Homo sapiens: one gene and its partners. The protein of the gene in region 3 interacts with the protein of the main gene of each other region in a pairwise test. Each region holds a gene or a part of one and is shown on either strand. Other genes may lie near its edges.

Region 1 (3,753 bases), on a different chromosome or scaffold from region 3:
ATGACACAGCTAGAGAATGTTGTTTATTCCTTGTCCTTCTTGAGTGAAGCTGGACGTTGGCTGCTTCGATCTGATTCAGATATATATATATATATATATATATATATATATATATATATATATATATGTACTTTTTCTTTTTGGCTATAAATGTCAACATCTCTTTGGGATCCTAACTGCAGGTTGGAGTTGAATTTTGTGCTTTTCCTCCACCAGCTTGGTTGGTCACGATGTGTCTCTTTTGCTTGTTTCAACACATAGCCCAGGCCCAAGATTACAGCTTCCAGGATACATTTTTCAGGTGTGTAAACAACTGTCACAGGGCACTTGGCACCTAGATTTGGAGGTCATATGTTGAAGATTTGACAATGGTTTTGTTCAGAGGGAACTCCAGTTCACGTTTGGGTGTTTCCAGTAATGGCGTAAGACAAAAAGATCACAGTTATATTTTTTTCTATCTGTATATATGTATATACCATTGCACTGAGTACTTTTTAATAAGCTGTGGTCTGTTTCAATAAAAATCTACATATTACTCGTCTAACAGGAGTTTAACATTAATTTCTATTCATGCAGCCTGGCACAAGCTTTCTACTACCACAAGCAGACAGTTACTATTGCGATCCCTGTAAACTCCTTTCTCAGTGGTGTTAATGATCCCATTTCCCTAATGTTTATTTTGGCGGCAGTAGAGAAGGAAAGGATACTGTCTGGGGCGTCATCAAGCCCACCGACTGCAAGGGGAGAGAAGGGGTTGTTCGTGCCTACTGGGAAGTCACCAGATAGCTGTCTAAGGTACTGAAATCAAACCCTGCAGAGTCAATAGGGATCCTTCATCTGCTTCTAGCAACTCTTAGGGGAAGAAGAATGAATGTAGAAAACTGGGGACATATTTTAGGATTTAAAAACAGTAACTTCAAAAGAGTAGTAACCTACTGGTAGTGCAATGACTTCACAGTATCTCAGTTGTGGTACTGTGATGGGAGCAACACCGTTTGTCCTGGGATGAAACATTGATTCTTAATTTGGAGTGTACTGTTTGTTGAGTTGCACTCTGGAGGAGGAGGAAGGTTCTGGAACTACGTGCTAATCCCATATTTCTCCCTGCTGATTTTACCACTATTTAATGTGCACTAATTACTTTTTGGTAACTACTGACTGCATTCAAACGTAACATCAAGGTGTGATCTAGATACAGTCAGTCTGGGCTGCTGTTGATGACAAAGGTGATTTCATTTGTTCTCTATTGAAAACATTGTACTTAAGAATATTAATTATTCTCTTCATTTTAAGTACAGAGAAATTGATGTATTAGGTGCTTATATGAATTGGCCAAAGATGTGGATCCAGTCTTAAGATTTTTATTTATTCTGATTTTGTATGACTAGGTTTCTTCTTTTCCATGATTGTTTATTCACAAGGAAATTATAAAAATTTAAGGGGGAAATCCCCCACTATATTAAAATCATTACTTCTTCAATGCTCTTCCTTCTTGGCTTTTAATAATAAAAATAGCTTGTACATGCTCAGCGCTTGGAATTTACTTTTGCGTACATTTTCTATGTCTCCTAATTCACAAGATTGTTGTTCTACCACTGGCCCCTGCTGAGGTCGGTCAGTGGTGACTTGGGGCCTTCCCCCCTTGTTCTTTTGGATTGTATTAAGCACTTCTAGAGACATGATGTCATGAAGTTACGTATTAGGAAGATGGCAAGAGCAGTTCATAGACACTTTATGACAATTTATTGATGATGATCATATATATGTGGCCTTTGATCCAAAGGTGAAGACTTTTATTTGGACTTCAATCTAAGGAGGAGTGAGCCCCTAGTCTGGTGTAATTTACCAACTAATGCTATGTCCTGAAATTCCACTGAGATTAGTGGTCTTAAAGTATCACAGTACATCCCTGACTTTACAGTACATGAAGCTTTAATATGGCTTAAGCAATGGCAGGGGTGGGGGTGGTTCTGTATTTCTAATTCAAGTGTCTAGATATTTTAGGAATATTAGAGTGATTTTACCTGTCACTGAGTTGTCAGAAAGATTATAGTAGGGGATCTGCCATTGGGTCAGTCCTCTAGGAGTGGGCAGATCTTGATCAGTACAGTATTGGAGTGAGGTTACATAATTAATAGTTTTTACATATAGCCGATTTTTTTTTTTTTTTTGAGACGGAGTCTTGCTCGGTCACCCAAGCTGGAGTGCAATGGCACGATCTTGGCTCACTGCAACCTCCACTTCCGGGGTTCAAGTGATTCTCCTGCCGCAGCCTCCCAAGTAGCTGGGACTACAGGTGTCCACCACCAAACCCAGCTAATTTTTGTATTTTTAGTAGAGATGGGGTTTTGCCATGTTGGCCAGGCTGGTCTTGAACTCCTGACCTCAGGTGATCCTCTCGCCTTGCCCAAAGTCCTGGGATTACAGGCATGAGCCACCGCACCTGGCTATATATACCAGATTCTTGAGCAGATAATTAAACCTCCTCCACCACAAAACTTGAAAATAAGGTACAAGAAGGCATGACATGAGAATCCACCTGCCCCTTTTCCCATCTGACTGTGATGCTGAGGTGTGGTGGAATTAGCCAAAAGATGTAGGAAGAAAACTTGGGTGAGCTACACCCAGAATAATTAATACTTAAGTCATCAAGGGTTGATTGTACTTGCAGGAGAACGGGTAACTTTCCCACATAAAGCTGAAATGCTAGTACAGAGAAATAGCCTTCCATTTGCTATTACAGGATCAATGTGCAGGTTTGATCACTTTTTTTTTGAAGCATTTTCTTTTGCCAAGAATAAAAATCATGTATAGCTATTGCACTACCAATAGGTCAATTCATGCTACAAATGTCCATGTGTTTCTAGGATGCCAGTGGCTACTGCTACCAGAAATAACTCCAGTCACTCCCTTGACTAGTGTTGCTAGTTTGGTCTTTAGGGTTTACCTAAGTGAGAGCATCAATGATGGGTTAAAGTCACAGACCACAATGAATAAATCACAGTCTGTGCACACTTTTGGCCAGGAAGAGTGGCAGTGGAATCTTGCATGTCATTTGGTTGAAATTAAGACTAAATCTCTATATGTGCACACACCCACACTCACACCCACACGCACACATATCACAGGGTTATAGCAGAATGAAAACGGTGGGTAGGAATCACCAGTTGAAGGCTGTAGGTTTAAATGATCAGGATTGGCACACTCAGATCAGCCCACCAGTGGTCTTCACTTTGTGAAATGGAACTAATGCCACAAGGAAACTGCATGGTTACTTCATCTGTTTACACATCTGCTTATATGTTCAGCTGAACTGTCACTGAAAACAGGAGCACCATTCTTGGGACATGAAACAAGGAGGAGGGGAAACATTCAGATAATCAACAGTTAATAGAACAAGTAAAAAAATAAGCCAACAGCAGGTGCGGCATCTCTGGTATGCAAAACAACTAATGAAAGTGTTCAAAGGAATTATCAAGGCAGGCCATTAAGACTATAAACCATCAAAAGAGCAGCAGCAATAGCAAGAGAGAAAGAAGAGGGTTAGCAAGAGACTAGATCTTCCTGAAAAAGTGGCCTTGGCTCTACAATTGTCTACCTTGTGCTGTCCTTAGAAGAACAGGCCCAGTGCTACAGAATAAAAATCTCCATGCCAAGCCACTGCCTTCAGAATGGTGATGATGTCTTCTTACAAAGGTAAACCCAAGATGACAACCACAAGCAAAAAAATCACCCTTTTGTTTTACCATCAAC
Region 2 (3,753 bases), on a different chromosome or scaffold from region 3:
CTAACAAACATACAAGGAATATAAAGTTGCTAGTTTACATATGTATATGTAGAAATTTTAGATATATAATTTAATATGCTTTACTGCCTGAGATCTGTTGGAAGAATCCTCTATTAACCTTGGTCTTGGAATTCTGAAAAAGTCTGAGCAAGATTTCTCCACTGCTCCAACCTACTTAAATGTAATTATGTATATGTAATTGCACATGGAATTAAACAGAAAAGAAATATTTTCGCTGGCTCATACTCTTTGCTGTTAAATCATAAATGCATCTAGAAATACAGACAAATATCTATAGCTACAACAATCCTGAAGGTTTTAAATGGAAATTCAAAGAATTAGGGTCATTTGTCTGTCTCAAAATCTATGAATACAAACAGACACACCAACACCAACACAGACACACATAAAGGTATTATTTTAGTTAATACAGAAGATAGCATACCACAAAAGCAATCCCTGAATGCATCTGGAGATGGTCTTTAAAAACTAAGAATTGTATGTTTAGATTTATGTTCACCTTTACATCACTATTCCCAATCTTGTCTGCTAGTTAGGCTACAGAAAATCCTGGAACTCACCAGTACAAGGTAGTATGCATACAGGGACGCACAATGATGCATTATAAAAAATTTGTCACCAATCACTTTCCAATACAAAATTATAATGGACAAATCTGTAAGAAAGAAAAGTGAGTAAGGTATTACATAAGAAGAAAGTTGCACTGTTTTTCAAATGTATTGAACTCTTTCTCCTGCCAACTCATCACTGTCCACTCTGAGCCCACAGCACTTTGTTCATCCCTCAGTTAGTCTGATTATCTACTTTACCATAAAATCTCTGCTCCTATATGCCTGTCTCATCCACACTCCTGTGGCTCCTCTAAGACAAGGGCCAGGTTGTGAGCATCTTTAAACCCTCAGAATCTAGCACAAGGCCTGGCATGTAGGTTGGTGCAAAAGTAACTGTGATTTTTGCCATTATTTTTAATCACAAAAACTGCAATTACTTTTGTACCAACCTAATCATATGTAATATAATATTTGTTGAAAGCATAAATGAATAACTTGTTTCCAGAGTTAAAATAAACAAAAAATATTATTGAATAGAAATAATTTTAAATAAGCTTAAGTGACTGATTTTTGTCACTACAATAATTCAAACAGAGATAAGATGGTCATAGGGAAGGTACAAAATGACCAACTCATTTATAAAACAAATCGTACAAAAAATATTTTAAAAATAAAAAAGAATGCAATTAAATACTAATTCAAAATAGTGACGCCACCAAAAACTATAACTATTAAAAAGAAAAACAAAGAAAAAAGCTTACTTCTGCAAATTTTACAAAAACAACACAAAACCATGACTACTGGAACACATTTCAAGAACTCTTGCAAGTGAGGGACCCTAAAAGTTAAATTTCGTTAGTTTCACAGTCATTACACTTAAGAGCCTCATTAGGACAAAGAGGGACCATATCCTTGCTGATAAAAAATGTCCAGGCCTCAGTTGTTTGAGGCATCACTCTGTAACTCTGATCTTCAGTGAGAAACAGAAAACCATTTCATGAAAAGACATTTCATGTTCTACCATCATGGGAGGTATTTTTTTCCTCTGTATGCTTCCTAAATGCTATCTCTCAAATAAACCAAAAGCATAGACTATATATTCTTTGTATAATTCCGTGAGTAGTTTACAAGGAATTAGACAATAAAACAACATCTCACATACCAGAAATGAGGTAGCCTGAGGCAATAGCAATATTCACGTTTGCAAGTGATGGACCACCCCTGAAAAAAAAAAAAGGTTCCTTTTTAAAGTATATAGATTGTAGATGACCGCTACTTCTTTTTTCTATAGAGATTTAAATATAATAAAATTGCTTTCTATAGATTCTCAAATGGTAAGCTGTCATCTTCAAATAAAATTGCAAAACACACAATGACAGTTTAGCCAAACTGTGACGCATCATGTGGTACTGGTGTTAGCAGTAAGGTAACTACTGCTGTTATCTTACATAGTAAGATAGTTACAAAGTGAACTACTAGTGAAAGTAACACTAACTAAAATAGCTGGACTACAAATATTTAATAGAAAGATTTAGCACAAGTTGTGCCTTCTTTACAAATTTTGATCTGTAAATATAACCAGGAAAATTTGACCTGGAGTAAATCATGACATAAAATTCAAATCAAAAATTATGTTAAAGTTCGATAAGGCAAAACTTGAACAATGAATCAAATCTTTGTTATGAAATTTACTTCCCAAAAGAACTGGTTTTATTTTGCTGATGGTCACGTTAGTAAAATGAAAACGAAAATTTTTAAAAAGCTAGAAATTTTGTAGGTAGACTATTTAAAAACCTAGTCATGGAATTAAATTCAATAAATTAATTCTCTTTGAAAAACAGCATCCCAATGAAAATGTATCAATACTGATATTATTCTTCTGGGAATAATTTTATATTTATGAATAGAAAAACGTCCTTGCAGTCAAATGGTGGTGGTCAAAAGAAAAGGCTAAATTGCCCTACATCCCCCGGAGCCCACAACTACCTCATCTCAGTGCAGTGCTTCTTCAAACATGCCTGCTCTCTCAAACTAAGCTGAACTAAGCCTTCTCATATAACACCAGGAAACAGTTTGCAAAATTTCTGCCATTGGAATGACATTTAAATTTTTCTAAAAGGACCATCTTACATGTTATCCTATTACTACTGAACACAGTTATTATTAGTGCATTAGTGCTTCAAATCCTGTGGTACTAAATTCCTATCACATGGCCATCTGTAACTCTCATTTCATCTCTTTGATATCAAATGAGTCAAACATAAATTGGAGACAAAAAAGTCTTAAGTAGATATTATCCAAGTTGACTACCCTATCTCAATAATGATTTATTTTTCTTCAGAACTGTGACTACAATAACTTGGCTTTACTCATTAACACAGTAAAAATGTTTAAATTATCATCATATTCTCCTTGTTTTGGATAACAATTGCTACACTAAGGCAAAATGGCCTTCATTTGTGTTCAAATCTAAAATAAATCATTTAAATGCACTTTGCTAGAATGTCTGAGCACAAGCATTTTAATAAGGCATATACGATCAATATGTTTTCTGTTTTAAAGTAAGTGATGTTCTTATAAATAATTAATATCAAAACATAAATGAAATTGGCAATCTTAGAAAAAGAAACAGCTTACCAAAGTGGATCAGCTTTAGTAGCCTCATCGAATAAGAAAATGTACAGGCCAAAAATACCAACCACCAAAGAATGGCATGTGGATACTACCCTGAAATTAAACAAAATACACACAAAGATTTTAGATTCTTTGCAATAAAATTTAATCCTGACAAGACACAGAACATTCTGAACAAGTTATACCTGGAAGCATTTATATACAGGTGTGAAGTATAACGGAGAGTATAATGCAAAATTGCCATTTCTTGCCATTTAGAAATCCAAAGGCCACAGCTTTACTTTGGAATAAAGAAGGAGGAAGATACCAAGGCCTACAATTTCCTGCTAGAGAACTGGTGAATCACTTATTGGTTAAAAGTTCTAAGACAGATAAATGCATACATGATGATGCAGCTGACAGACTTTTGTGCAGCCAGATGGCAACTGGCAAGGCCACTACCCTTGGCTCCAAGCTCCAGCCCCAACAGCATCAATGCAGGATAAGTTTCCTGCTCCAATCAGCTGGGAATGACTTCCAGATCTACTGGCTTTAACAAACTCCATAT
Region 3 (3,753 bases):
TCCCAGCATCTCTTTCCTTAACTCTGCCAGGACTTTGAGAAGGTGGCTTTCGTAATGGAAGAACACGACGTTTACTTCAAGTTCAGCAATGCATTCCGTGCGGTTACTTTCTTTTTTAAATGCAAGCTCTTATAAATTAAACACTAGATGCTGTTCCTCAAACTCCTGCCACACACGGCAACCTACACGGTCCCAAGCGCCGGACACTAACTAAAAACAGACAGGCTCAGGAACACGTGAGCCAACACTCCCGAGAGGCGAGACTCGGGCCGGACGGGAGGCGAGGTCATCAGGGTTGGGAGTGGGTGGGACTAGAAAGATGGGTCTGAAAATAGCCTGCACCCCCTTCCTGGTGCTTACGCGGATCTACACGCATTGCACCGACACTCTCTTGGTTTTGGGGCTGCGCTGTTACGGAAAGGTAAACATTGGGGGGAAACTCGGTGAAGGGTACACAAGCCCCCTGTGCTACCTTTGCTGCTTCCTGTGAATCCAGAGTGATTTAAAAGTCAAAAAAGGGCTGGGCACAGTGGCTCACGCCTGTAATCCCAGCGCTTTCGGAGGCCAAGGCGGGCAGATCACCCGAGGTCAGGAGTTCGAGACCAGCCTGGCCAACATGAAGCAACCCCGTCTCTACTTAAAAAAAACGAAAAAAAAAAAAAAAAATTAGCCGGGCATGGTGGTGCACACCTGTAATCCCAGCTACTCGGGAGGCTAAGGCAGGAGAACTGCTTGAACCCGGGAGGTGGAGGTTGCAGTGAGCCGAGATCCTGCCACTGTATTCCAGCCTGGGCAACAGAGCAAGACCCTGTCTCAAATAAATAAATAAAATAAAACAAAATAAAAGTCAAAATAATGTATAGAGGGGAACTACATCAAACTTTAAAACTTCTACACATCAAAGAAAACAACAGAGCAAAAGGTAACCTATGAAACGAGAAAATATTTGCAAATGTGATAAGGAATTAATATCTGATAAGGGATTAATATTCAGAATACATAAAAAAACTCAGGGTCAGGGGAGGTGGCTCACGTCTGTCATCCCAGCACTTTGGGAGGCTGAGGCGGGCTGATCACTTGAGGTCAGGAGTTCAAGACCAGCCTGACCAATGTGGCGAAACCCCAACTCTCCTAAAAATACAAAAATTAGCCGGGCATGGTGGTGGGCGCCTGTAATCCCAGCTACTCAGGAGGCTGAGGCAGGAGAATCACTTGAACCCAATAGGCAGAGGTCGTGGTAAGCTGAGATCACACCACTGCCCTTCAGCCTGGGCGACAGAGGGAGACTCCGTCAAAAACAAAAACAAAAATAAACAAAAAACCAAAAACCAAAAACAAACATAAAAAAGCAGCGTCTGAAAGTCCCACTTGCACGCCATGTTCACAGCAGCACCGTTCACAATGACCAAAATGCGGAAGCACCTGCTGTGCCGATGGATGAGTGAGTCAAGGAAATGCAGCCTCTCCCCGCAATGGAATAATTCAGCCATAAAGAGGAATGACCACCGACCCGTGCTGCAGCACGACGGGCCGGAGGACACTGTGCCCCGTGAAATAAGCCAGTCAGAAAAAGACAGCTCCCGCAGGTCCACTCGCAAGAGGGCCCTGGAGCCGTCAGGTCCCCTGAGGCAGATGGCAACGAGGGGGCTGGGCAGCAGGAGGAAGGGAGAGCGTTGAATGGGTGCAGTTTCAGTTTGGCAAGGAATGGGTTGTGTAACACTAAGAGCGTGCTCAACCCTACTGACTGCACTCACGGATGATTAAACGGTCATTAAACAAAATGTTTTTTAGAAACAAGGTCTTGCTATGTTGCCCAGGCTGGTCTCTAAGTCCTGGGCTCAAATAATCCTTCCGCCTTGGCCTCTCAAGTAGCTGGTATGAGAGGCGTGCACCACCATGCCTGGCTCAAAATGGTAAATTTATGGTATGTGTTCTTTACCACAGTTTTTTTTAAAACTTAAAGCAGGATTAAAGACCATTTGCTGTTCTGCTCGGCCTGTGTTGCGTCCTAACATTCAGCAGGCCTCTGCCAGGACCAGGCTAGACGCTAGGCACAGAGGATACAGCAGCTGCCCCGCGGGGGGATGGGGGTTACAGTCAAAGGAAACAAGGTGACACACAAAGGCCACAGAGACCAAGGAGAGGCCTTTGCTGTCCATGCAGTGTCCCCATGGCGTTAAGGCAGAGACCTAAAGCAAGACAGACACTGAACAGCAATGCTGGAGGGCAGGGAAGGGCAGGGGACAGCAGGGGAACCCTCCCAGGCTGGCAGAGGACTTCCTGGAGGCCAGAAAAGAACCAAGGGGCACTTCCTCAAGTACAGCAGAGCTCAAGGGGCCACTGGCGACGACCCCAGACCCTCCCCCGCAGCCTTGCTGCGCCCACAGTTCTTTCTCAGGCTGCGGTCTGTGGCTCCGGGTGCCCAGGCAGGACACAGTCCCACACTAACCCAGACCCCTGCCCTGCCAAGGTCTTATGTGGAGTGTCCCAACATGAGTTCCCAGGGATGTCCTGCAAATACCCACCTCCCCTCACTGCCCCCTGAGACCCAAGTGTTTCTGGCTCCAGCCGCTTTCCCTCTCAGTTCTCAAGGAGTTCTGCTTCCTGCCGCCCACACACGGCCAGGGCTGGCTGACCTCACCCTCGCCCTGTCCCAACACCACCAGATGAGCAGTGACTGGCTTGGTCAATTCACCACTACACCACACAAAGCAAGACCGGCCTGAGAACAGGAACAGCAACCCACAGGCAGCTCTGAAGGGCCTGGGCTTTCAGCGGGCACCCAGCCTCCAACAAGCCACTCCACAGTCTGCCCTGCCCAGGGCAGCCACCTCATAGTGTTTGGCCAGCTGTGCCCACGCTGAGGTGGCAACGACACCACCAGCCAACCTGAAAATCCTGCAACAAACCCTAAAGAGCCTGGAGGCAGCTAGGACCAGTTCTCATGTTCACTGGAACAGTCCCGTCAGCAGGGGATGGCCTGGGTTGATATTTTAGCTCAAAACAGCTCTGGAGGCCTTGAACCCAAGGGCAGCTTACAGTACCCCGTCTGTGGCCACACTGGGGTGCGCCTGAGCCTAACTGTGAGCTGTGCCCACCAGTCAGAGCAGACCCTCCCCCAGAAAAGCAGCACCAAGAAATCCAGTAGCTACTCAGGAAGTTGGACAGGAAAGTCACAACGAACACGAATCCCTCTTGTGTTGCTGGTTTTAACACGACCGGGCACGACTCACGTTTCTTCAGAGCGTAGTTTGTGACAGGCACCGTGCTCAGCGCTATGCATGCGTTAACTTTTTCGCAGACGGGAAAACTGGGCAACAGGGAGGCTACAGGCCTTGCAGGAGGCCATCGGCGAGTCCGATGCTCAGAGCACAAACGCCTGGCCTAAGAGGTGGTGTCTTGGCCTCTAGACTCCGCCTCTCCAGTCTGTCTGCAGGGGAAGGCTGGGGCCCTTCAGGAATGGGGTCCTAGCTTCCCATGGGCTCCCCTAGAGATGAGCCAAATTCAAAGCCTGTTCATGTGCGCAGCAGGGCTGACCTCCAGGCTCCACAGCGCATCCCAAACACACACTCCCTCTGTCCTTTCCCCCCGTCCGCCTGCCTGAAGATCTTGTGCTCTTCAAGCCCAAGCCTTGTGACTGCTCCTGCCCCAGGGGCCCTGCAGACCATCCGCACAGGGCACTGGGCCTGTCTCCAGCAGGAAGGAAGCAGCTTTATGCGCCTGCGTCCCAGGCAGCCACAGAGCAAGTGCACG

The links.
Region 1: the proteins of CLCN7 (region 3) and KCNN3 interact in binary tests that used the Homo sapiens proteins (3 or more experiments, as listed by UniProt).
Region 2: the proteins of CLCN7 (region 3) and TLCD4 interact in binary tests that used the Homo sapiens proteins (3 or more experiments, as listed by UniProt).

What each region holds. Positions count from the first base shown.
Region 1 is NC_000001.11:154,702,622-154,706,374, forward strand, and holds part of KCNN3 (small conductance calcium-activated potassium channel protein 3), read right to left. Parts: 3' UTR 1-3,753. UniProt on the Homo sapiens protein: Small conductance calcium-activated potassium channel that mediates the voltage-independent transmembrane transfer of potassium across the cell membrane through a constitutive interaction with calmodulin which binds the intracellular calcium allowing its opening.
Region 2 is NC_000001.11:95,148,248-95,152,000, reverse strand, and holds part of TLCD4 (TLC domain-containing protein 4), read right to left. Parts: intron 3,300-3,753; coding exon 3,210-3,299; intron 1,794-3,209; coding exon 1,735-1,793; intron 677-1,734; coding exon 582-676; intron 1-581. Other genes in the region: TLCD4-RWDD3 (TMEM56-RWDD3 protein), read right to left, coding at 582-676, 1,735-1,793, 3,210-3,299.
Region 3 is NC_000016.10:1,468,391-1,472,143, forward strand, and holds part of CLCN7 (H(+)/Cl(-) exchange transporter 7), read right to left. Parts: intron 3,374-3,753; exon of another isoform or gene 3,234-3,373; intron 1-3,233. UniProt on the Homo sapiens protein: Slowly voltage-gated channel mediating the exchange of chloride ions against protons. Functions as antiporter and contributes to the acidification of the lysosome lumen and may be involved in maintaining lysosomal pH.